2 separate regions of the Homo sapiens genome follow, and region 1 is linked to region 2. The links come from fine-mapping of genetic effects on gene expression. A gene starts in region 2. The other region holds a variant in brackets. All regions are shown on one strand. Distances are from middle to middle.

Region 1 (5,308 bases), 33 kb after region 2:
TAAGTTCAAGTGATCCTCCCAGCTCAGCCTCCCAAGGAGCTGGGACTAAAGGTGTGCACTGCCACATCTGGCTGAGTTTTTTAAAATTCTTTTTGTAGAAATGCAGCCTCACTGTGTTGCTCAGGCTGGTCTCAATCTCCTGGCCTCAAGTGATTCTCCCACCTCAGCCTCCCAAAGTGCTGGGATTACAGGCATGAGCCACCGAGTCCAGCCTAAACTTCATTTCTAATCAAGACATTTAAAGAAAAGGAAAAAAAAGAGAATACTTATTATATGCTAATAAATACCAATTAAGACCACCACCACAACTAGTATTTGCGTTGCACCCGTGGAGAGATGAAAGGGAATGGTAGGTTCTCAGGTCCACCTCCACCCAGGGTAAGAAAGTTCTAACGTTCTGTCAGCTAACTTGCTAGACACTGTGCTCCGAACTACTTCAGCAGGGGATCCACATTGCACAGCTGAGCCATTAGAAGTCTTCAGGTGATTCGCTGAAAATCTATCTCCTTGGACCTTCACCGCACAGAGACCTAGTGCATCACAGAAATTCAATGACTGGCGACCTGCAGTGGCTCACGCCTGTAACCCCAGCACTTTAGGAGGCTGAGGTGGGAGGATTACTTGAGCCCAGGAGTTCCAGGCTATGGTGAGCCATGATGGCACCACGGCACTCCAGCCGGGGGCAACAGAGCAAGACCTTAATACACACACAAACATTTTAAAAGGAAAAAAAAAAAAAAGGCCGGGCGCGGTGGCTAACGCCTGTAATCCCAACACTTTGGGAGGCCAAGGCAGGTGGATCACTTGAGGCCAGGAGTTGCAGACCAGCCTGGCCAAAAGGGCGGAACCCCGTCTCTACTAAAAATACAAAAAATTCGCCGGAGGTGGTGGCGGGCGCCTGTAGTCCCAACCACTCGGGAGGCTGAAGCAGGAGAAGCGCTTGAACCGGGAGGCGGAGGTTGCAGTGAGCCGAGATCGCGCCACTGCACTCCAGAGACAGTCTCAAAAATAAATAAAAATTAATTTTTTTAAAAAAAGAGCTTCAATAACAGAATCTTCTCCTTCCACCCGACTGTCCATCAAACACGTATAATCAAATGATGCCCACTCTCCACAGATGTCTTTTCTGGAGAAAATAATACGCTCGTTCCTCTAATTAGCCCATCGGTTTCAGGTTCATCACTCTGCTATCTTCTCCTGGAGTTTACAAAAGCCCTTCAGAGTGTAAACACCGATGTGGATTCAATCCCACTTCCGGAGAGAGGATCAAACCAGGAATCTAATACAACTGAAAACGGAGCCTGAGCCAGGTGTATCACGCGATGCACTGGGCTCCAGCAGGATTACCCCTGGAATCGGCGTCTGCACCCACTCCCAGCCCTCGTGCTAACTGCGTACGCTTAGCAGAATTTCTCTGATCCTTGGACCCAGCTGCGTAAAAATAAACTTCCTCTCCTGCCACGGGCGCGAATAACTGTGTTAACATCAAATAAAAACGTCTGGGAGAAATACCAAGTTAGGGTCGCTGTCATTAGCTGCTTTCAAGAGAGAGGCGCCCCTACCGCTCTGCTGAAACTTTTAAACGCTCCAGCTGGGTCGCCGTTAAAGTCACAAAACCAGAACCGGAGCCCCATTACTAACCCCTACGCAGGATCCCGCTAGGCTAGGGGGATCCCTGGGGAAGCGGAGTAGAGGACGGGCTGCAGGGGACGGAGGGGCGCCTCCCCGAACCCTGCTCCGGGCCGGCCGGGGGACCCTGCGGGCCGCAGTGGCACAGACACCACCCCCTTCCCCGGCGACCACAGCCTCCGTCTCACCGCGAGACCCGGGGACGCGTGGACTCACCCTGGGGGCAGGGACGACAGATTTGGGGGACCGGACACGGACCAGGCCCTGTTGGACCCTGTCACAGACCCACACACCGGGGACAGAACAAAGAACGGAAGTTCCCCCTCGTTTCGCTTCCGGGTCGGTTGTTCTTGCCACTCACCCGTACCCCCAACGCCCACTTGTTCTGTCTAGGAAAATGGGAGGTCCTCGCCTCTCTGTGGTTTGCTGACTCAGGGCGGCTGGCAGGCGGCGAGGGCAAGGAGCGCGATCGCTGACGCGGCACTCGGGGATCTTTCGCTGCGGGGGCTGGCCGGCTGCGCCCTCTGCTGGCCACGAATGTGCGAAAGCGGCCGACCACGGTCCTGGGCCTCAGGACATGTGCTCCAGCGTCGCCGGCCTTGGGGGCGGGCGGCGGGGGCGCGCGGGGATGTCGAGCCCGCGCTTCTCAGGCTGGCTCGCGAAGGGCAGCAGTAAACATACAATTATTGAAGGATTCATCAATATTAAAAAATGAACCCTGATTTAAAACTTGCCTCCGAACAAACCGAGTTTTTTTTGTTTCTTGTAAAAATGCCCCCTTTAAATTACCCACATCTGAAGAAAACATTCCAGTCCATCACAGAGTTGACATGAGGAAAAAACCCGTGTACAGGTGATGAGAGCAGAGAAGAGGAAGCTTACCGGCCGGGCGCGGAGGCTCACGCCTGTAATCCCAGCACTTTAGGAGGCCGAGGCGGGCGGATCACCTGAGGTCAGGAGTTCGAGACCAGCCTGGCCAACATGGCGAAACCCCGTCTCGACTAAAAATACAAAAAAATTACCCGGGCGTGGTGGCAGACGCCTGTAATCCCAGCTACTCTGGAGGCTGAGACAGGAGAATCGCTTGAACCCAGGAGGCGGAGGTTGCAGTGAGCCGACATCGCACCACTGTACTCCAGGCTGGCCACAGAGTGAGACTGTCTCAAAAAAAAAAAAAAGGAAGCTACAGGTGGAAGCGAGGCGGGGATAGTCAAGGAAGTGACCGTGTCCTGGAGACGCGGCAACCGTGGTGACCGCAGTCAACACAGTAAGCCCCAGCATTCGCATTGTAATTGAGCTCATTCAAGCTGAGCGCTCTCCAGTAGGGACTTTCCCCTGTAGGGAGCATGCGCATTTTGATTTCACCTGTCCTCAAACTGACCCTTTGCTCATTATCTTGGTAAAAAACACGCCCCTGGGTGGAAATTTAAGATGCTAATGAAACATGCAATGTATGAACAAGCCTGTACACCCACTGCGCATGTGCACCTAGAGGACCACCCAGAACATACTTACTAGTAACACTTCTCCCACCCCCTTATGAATAATCGTGTAAGACCCCTTACAAAGGGGGTCTCTCTAGAGCCAGCCTTTGCTGTTTCATCCTTAGGAGCAGCCCTCCCTGAACTAACTCTCTCTCTATCTCTCTCTCTCCCAGGGTGTACTGTCTACTCTGCACTTAACTTTCAAAATACTATTTTCCTTTTGCAATAAATTACTCTATGCTGGATTTCCTTTGACATGTGTTTCTTTTATTCTTTTTC[CT/C]TTTTTTTTTTTTTTTTTTGTTGTTGTTGTTGTTGAGAGGGAGTCTCACTCTTGTCACCCAGGCTGATTCTCGTGCCTCAGCCTCCCAAGTAGCTGGGACTACAGGCGTGTGATACCATACCCGGCTAATTTGTGTGTATTTTTAGTAGAGACAAGGTTTCACCATGTTGGTCAGGCTTGTCTCGAACTCCTTACCTCAAATGATCTGCCGCCTCAATCTCCCAAAGTGCTGGGGTTACAGGTGTGAGCCACCGCGCCCGGCCTCCTGTGTGTTTCTTGTTTAAATTTTTTTTTTCTTTTGAGACGGGGGTCTTACTCTGTCACCCAGGCTGGAGTGCAGTGTTGTGATTTCGGCTCACTGCAACCTCCACCTCACAAGGTCAAGTGATCCTCCCACCTCAGCCTCCCAAGTAGCTGGAACCCCAGATGCATGCCACCACGCCCGGCTACTTTTTTGTAGAGACAGAGGGTTTTCACCATGTTGCCCAGACTGGTCTCAAACTCCTGAGCTCAAGGGATCCGCCCACCTCAGCCTCCCAAAGTGTTGGGATTACAGGTGTGAGCCACTGCACCCAGCCTTAAATCCTTTTAAACTAAGAAGATAAGAAATGAGGTATCACAATAGCCATCAATAGAAGGAAAGCACCTCATCATGTTCATGCTTTCCTCTGCCTTCTTCAACATATGAAGTCTTTTTTTTTTTTTTTTTTTTAGAGACAGGGTCTCACTCTGTCACCCAGGCTGGAGTGCAGTGGCGCGATCCTACCTCACTACAGCCTCAACCTCCTGGACTCAGGCGATCCTCCCTCCTCAGCTTCCAGAGTAGCTGGGACCACAGGCACGCACCATCACACCTGGCTTCCTTTCTGTTTTGTAGACTGGGTGCTGCCAGTTCATGAATCCCTAATAAAGCCAACTCAATCTTTAAAATTCAATTTGTTGGCCGGGTGCAGTGCTTCACGCCTGTAATCCCAGCACTTTGGGAGGCCGAGGCAGATAGATCACCTGAGGTCAGGAGTTTGAGACCAGCCTGGCCAACATGGTGAAACCCTGCCTCTACTAAAAATACAAAAACAAAAATTAGCCGGGAGTGGTGGCAGGCACCTGTAATCCCAGCTACTTGGGAGACTGAGGTGGCAGAATGGCTTGAACCTGGGAGGTGGAGGTTGCAGTGAGCCGAGATCGCACCACTGCACTCCAGCCTGGGAGCGACAGAGGGATACTCCATCTCTGTATATATATACGTATCCTGAAGTATGTTTATGGTCTGTTTCCTACAACTAGGGTATAAGCTCCATGAGGTCAGGACTTCGTTTTGTTTAGTGATGTACCTGCTGCCTGGTAGGCACTCCCAAATATTTGTTAAATTAATGACTGATAGGTGAATAGATAACCACTGACCCATACCAAAAAGGAGCACTTGCTTTTTGTTCGTTTTTGTTTTTGGGGTGGGGATATTTTTTTGGTTTGTTTGTTTGTTTGTTTTGAGACAAACAAATATGGCGAAACTCTATCTCTACAAAAAATACAAAATTTAGCCTGGCGTGGTGGCACGCATTTGCAGTCCCAGCTACTTGGGAGGCTGAGATGGGACAGTCACTTGAGTTCAGGAGGTTGAGGCTGCACTGAATTGTGATTGTAACACTGCACTCCAGCCTGGGTGACAGAGCAAGACTCTGTCTCAAAAACAACAATAACAAACACAAAACAAAACAAAAACAAAAAAAAAGAAACGTTTAGCAAACTTAGTTCTAAAATGCGCACAATCAACTGATTCAATGTCAAAGTCATCCTTAAATTCCACAATAATCTCTTGTTTTATGAGCTGTATAATTATCTGAACAATGTTTCAAAAGCACCTGAAACAACAAGGCAAAGGAGTTCTTTAATGTGTGAGAGAGCAGTGCAAACGATC
Region 2 (5,374 bases):
TTGTCCTTCCTCAGCCACCCGAGTAGCTGGGATTACAGGCATGTGCCACCACACCCAGCTAATTTTTGTATTTTTAATAGAGACAGAGTTTCACCATGTTGGCCAGGATGGTCTCGATCTCTTGACCTTGTGATCCGCCTGCCTCAGCCTCCTAAAGTGCTGGGATTACAGGCGTGAGCCACCGTGCCCTGCCAAGGCTCATTTTTTTTTTTTTTTAAGAGAAAGCAAGTTTATTAGAGAAGTAAAGAAACAGCCGGGCACGGTGGCTCACACCTGTAATCCCAGCACTTTGGGAGGGCGAGGCGGGCAGATCATGAGGTCAGGAGATCAAGACCATCCTGGCCAACATGGTGAAACCCTGTCTCTACTAAAATACAAAAAAAAATAAAAAATTACCCGAGCGTGGTGGTGCGCGCCTGTAGTCCCAGCTACTCGGGAGGCTGAGGCAGAGGAATCGCTTGAACCTAGGAGGCGGAGGTTGCAGTGAGCCTAGATTGCACCACTGCACTCCAGCCTGGCGACAGAGTAAGACTCCATCTCAAAAAAAAAAAAGAAAGAAACAAAAGAATGCACATGGAGGCTCATTTTCTCTAATTTTGCATGTCTTTAAACATAAAAAATTTTTAAATTATCCTGGAAAATGTCAGGGAAAAATGATATTGAGTATCTATGAATTCATGACGCGTATGGACAGGGAATTCCACGTGCAGGCAGCCATATTGGTGTTCCTCAACACATGTGAGTTTTGCAGGACCAGACAAAAGCAAACTCACAGGGGGCCCGATGGAGTAGTGCTGAGGTGGAAAATACAGACTCTTCAGTCTGGAAACCTGCAGCTGAGCCAGAGCAGCAGGAGGAAAAGGCAGGCAAAGACATCTTCATCGAGTCCTGCAGCATTGGAAGGAGTTCAGCCCCTAGGTCTTCTGCTCAGGAAGTTTAGGACCCACAGAAGGGCAAGGCTACTTCTGATTGATGTCACCATGACCCTGGTCTGCAAAGTTGAGGACTAAACTCTGACTGTTTTCTTCTTTTGCCCAAATTACTATCTAAGGGGCCTGGAGAGTCACCCCCTTCAAACCATAAAGCCTCATCAGACAGGTTTTATTTAACTTTATATAACCTGGCTGACTTTTCAACCAGGCTCTGGCATAACATCACATGGCAGATAAAGAAGGAAACGAAAATATTTCCACCCCAAATATGTTTTTTTGCCATATCTTGAAATAACCCTACCAAGCTGTCTTCTCGTGGGGAAAATCTACACTTGGTAGAGAATCCCCTTCCCTTTCCAGGCCTTTTTCCTGATCCAGGAGAGAATCAACTGGGCGTCTGGCACTTTTTAAAGTCTGATAAGAAATATTTGCAGTCTGTTCTTTCTGAAGCCGGCTGCCTGGAGGCTCCATCTGCATAATGGGAACCCTGGTCTCCACAACCCCTTAGTTCAGCGGTCCCCAACCTTTTTTGGCACCAGGAACCAGTTTTGTGGAAGACAGTTTTTTCCATGGATGGCAGGAGGGGGATGGATGGTTTCGTGGTTTCAGGATGATTCAAGCACATTACATTTATTGTGTACTTTATTTCTATTATTATTACATTGTAATATATCATGAAATAATTGTACAACTCATCATAACATAGAATTAGTGGGAGCCCTGAGTTTGTTTTCCTGTAATTAGAGGGTTCCATTGGGGAATTATGGGAGACAGCGACAGATCATCAGGTATTAGATTCTCATAAAGAGTGCACAACCTAGATCCCTCGCATGCACTGTCCACAATAGGGTTTGTGCTCCTGTAAGAATCTAATGCTATGGCTGATCTGACAGGAGGCGGAGCTCAGGCAGTAATTAGAGCAATGGGGAGTGGCTGTAGATACAGGTGAAGCTTTGCTCCTGCAGCTCACCTCCTGCAGTAACGGCCCAGTTCCTAACAGGCCATGGACTGGTATCTGTCTGTGCCCCAAGGGTTGGGGACCCCTGCCTTAGTCATCCCAGACATTCCTTTCTATTGATTATAGGTCTTTAGACAATAACTTTCAGCCAGTTGCCCATTAGAAGATCCTTGAGTTCACCTATGACTTGGAACATCCCCGCTTGGAATTGTCCTGCCTTTCCCACAGAACCAATGTTCATCTTACATGTCTTGATTGGTGTCTTATGTCTCCCTAAATTGTATAAACCCAAGCTGTAGCCCGACCATCATAGGTACATGTTCTTAGGACCTCTTGAGACTGTACCTTGGGCCATTGGTCACTCATATTTGTCTCAAAATAAATGTCTTCAAATATTTTACAGTTTGATTGTTTTCATCAACGAAGTATTAACTCAATCTCTGGCTTCACGGGCCAAGCACAGCGTTCCATGTCCATAAACCTGGACCGAGGAGCTGGGCCCAAGGGTATCCAGTGACCTCGATCCAGGTTTATGGACAAGGAACCCTGTGCTTATCCCAAGGGTACTCAGGGACCTTGGGCTCTGAAGTCCACGAGGGTGACCGAGGTGGCTGCCTCAGCCCATGCCCTCCCTGCCCCAGGGCGTCGGGGTTGGGTGAGAGAACCGCCGCAGCCTTCATCTGGTCTGACCGTCTTCGGTAAAAACAGAAAGAGTCCCTGGCTTTTCATTTTCGGGGTGGACTCAACTCCTCCCTGATGTCCCAAGGGCCAGAGACACAGAGAGGACCTCCCGAATTTCTAGAGGGGCCGCTACGGCCCCGCACTACTTTTCCGCGGGGGCGGGGCTATGACGCACTTCCGGGTGCGCGGTCCCGAGGTACGCGGTGCGGTCTCCCGGTACCCGGAGCGGCTCTGATTCATGGTGAGCCTGCTGGTCGCGGGTTAGCGAGGCGGACAGGAGAGGGAGCCGTGGCTGAATGGTCTGGGGAGGGAGGAGTGGGTTTAGCAGCTGTGGCTTCCGAGGACCCCACCTAGACCGGTCCTAGCAGGGCTGTGGGGAGGAGCTCCTCGTCCCCGCCCAGGACCAGCTGGTGGGGGCGCTGGCTGCCTGGAAAGCCTTTTCTTCCACTTGGGGCTTTAACAAATGAAAGCTGGAAGAACAGATGTTTTGGAAGTTCTTTCGCGTTCCAGAATAGTTTTTTTTGTGCGTTCCCCAAGCCAAGCCGTCTATCAGTCTGACCGTGGCCGCCTTTTTTCCCTTTCTCTGAACTGGAGGTCCGAACGCAAGGCTCATTGATGGCAATACGCCCAAGGTGTTGGAAACCTGTGGGAAGCCGAACCTCATTAGAAGTGTTGGGTAGAATCAAATCCAAGGGAAGAAATAGTCCCCTCGGGCTTTGTTCGGGCTAGAACACACACACAGAATAGGGATCTGCTCATGGTTTAGAAAAACAGTCTTAAAGAACCATGTATAAATAAAAGAGTGTCAGGACAAAGTTGATTTGGGCCAGGCGCGGTGGCTCACGCCTGTAATCCCAGCAGTTCGGGAGGCCGAGGCCGGCGGATCACTTGAGGTCAGGAGTTCGAGACCAGCCTGGCCAAACCCTGTCCCCACGAAAAATACAAAAATTAGCTGGGTGTGGTGGAGCGCGCCTGTAATCCCAGCTACTCAGGAGGCTGAGGCAGGAGAATCGCTTGAACCCACCAGGTGGAGGTTGCACTGAACCGAGATCACGCCACTGCACTCCAGCCTGGGCGACAGAGCAACACTTGGTCTCACAAAAAAAAAGAACGTTGATTTGATGGGTGAGGTACTTGGAAACCCACGAAATCTAAGGAACAGTTGAGCTGTGGAGAGGAAAAGAATTAAGAGGCAAGATAATTGTTTTCAAGTGTTGGAAGGCTGCTATGGAGAAAGTGAGTATTGGTCTTGGACTAACCTAGGATTTTTGAAATGATGCGGAATTTGATTCAGGTTAAAGAATTTGTGTGGCCGGGCGCGGTGGCTCATGCCTGTAATCCAGCACTTTGGGAGGCCGAGGCGAGTGCATCACCTGAGGTCGGGAGTTCGAGACCAGCCTGACCAACATGGAGAAACCCCGTCTCTACTACAAATACAAAATTAGGCGGGCGTGGTGGCACATGCCTGTAAGGAGGCTGAGGCAGGAGAATCGCTTGAACCTGGGAGGCAGAGGTTGCGGTGAGCCGAGATCGCGCCATTGCACTCCAGCCTGGGAAACAAGAGTGAAACTACGTCTCAAAAAAAAAAAAAAAAAAAAAAAAAGGAAGAACTTGTAACAATTAGTGGAATTCTGTGGCTCAAGAATTATCTAATTTGGCTGCCTAGGGATCTAGGGATTTTCTTTTTTTTTTTTTTTTTTTTTTTTTTTTTGAGATGGAGTCTCGCTCTGTCGCCTAGGTTGGAATGCAGTGGCGCGATCTCGGCTCACTGCAAGCTCCGCCTCCCGGGTTCTAGCCATTCTCCTGCCTCAGCCTCCCAAGTAGCTGGGACTACAGGCGCCCGCCACAACGCCTGGCTAATTTTTTGTATTTTTTAGTAGAGACGGGGTTTCACCGTGTTAGCCAGAATGGTCTCGATCTCCTGACCTCGTGATCTGCCCGCCTCGGGCCTCCCAAAGTGCTGGAATTACAGGTGTGAGCCACGGCGCCGGGCCCCCTAGGGATTTTCAGGTACGGACTGAGTGTGAAGCATTTTAGCACAAGTGGGTAAGTGCTGTTCTACTTTTAGAATCTATGGTAATTTGATTTTTTTATGCCTCATCTTGTTACAGAATGGACTTGGGGCGCTTTCATAAGGGCATATAAGCTGTGGGAGATTGGCATAAAGGAGGAGGGAAAATGGACACAGAACAAGGGCCTTCTGTTTATGATAGACCATGAACTTTTGCTTGATGGACTTCTTGAGATAAACAGTCTAGATAGCTTTTAAAAAGTCACTGTGATTGTAGACAATGTGAGTTAGTAATGAAGCATTTGATTTCTAGCCGCATGCTTCTTTATTTTTTTAAGAGACAGGGTTTTCCTTTGTCACCCAGGCTGGAGCACAGTGGTACAGCCACAACTCTGCAGCCCGGAACTCCTGAGCTCAAGTTATGCCTCAGCCTGGGCAACAAAGCAAGACTTCGTTTCTACAAAAATAAGTAAATCAATAAATAAATTTTTTTTAATTAGCTAGATGTGGTGATGCACACCTGTAGTCCTGGCTACTTTGGAGGCTGAGGTGAGAGGATCGCTTGAGGCCAGGAGTTCAACGCTGCAGTGAGCTGTCATGGCACCACTACACGCCAGCCTGGGCAACAAAGCGAGACCCTGCCTCTGTAATTGAAAAACAATAAAATAAAGACCCAGTGAAGTGGTTCACGCCTGTAACCCCAGAACTTTGAGAGACCAAGGCAAGAAGATGGCTTGAGACTAGGAGTTCAAGACTTCCGTGAGCTGTGATTGTGCCACTGCACTCCAGTCT

Alleles and levels. Positions count from the first base shown, and alleles are read on the strand shown. Sizes are in standard deviations (SD) of each study's normalised expression.
For the expression in Th1 cells of the gene that starts at base 2,745 in region 2, CT is the high allele of the variant in region 1 and C is the other (large effect, 1.0 SD a copy in Schmiedel 2018).

What was found. PIP is the estimated chance that this variant, and not a neighbour inherited with it, causes the effect.
Region 1: its variant is the best candidate, but not a certain one, in a credible set for the expression of ZSCAN21 in Th1 cells (Schmiedel 2018, PIP 0.51).

Annotation. Positions count from the first base shown.
Region 1 is chr7:100,079,790-100,085,097 of GRCh38, forward strand. It overlaps ZNF3 (zinc finger protein 3), which reads right to left and starts at 1,934. Exons shown (of 6, transcript NM_032924.5): 1 at 1,846-1,934. RefSeq lists enhancers at 1,873-2,022, 2,179-3,160 and a silencer at 2,263-2,342. The variant CT/C (reference allele first, on the strand shown) is at 3,393.
Region 2 is chr7:100,047,030-100,052,403 of GRCh38, forward strand. ZSCAN21 (zinc finger and SCAN domain containing 21) reads left to right here and starts at 2,745. Exons shown (of 4, transcript NM_145914.3): 1 at 2,745-2,812. RefSeq lists an enhancer at 2,647-3,266.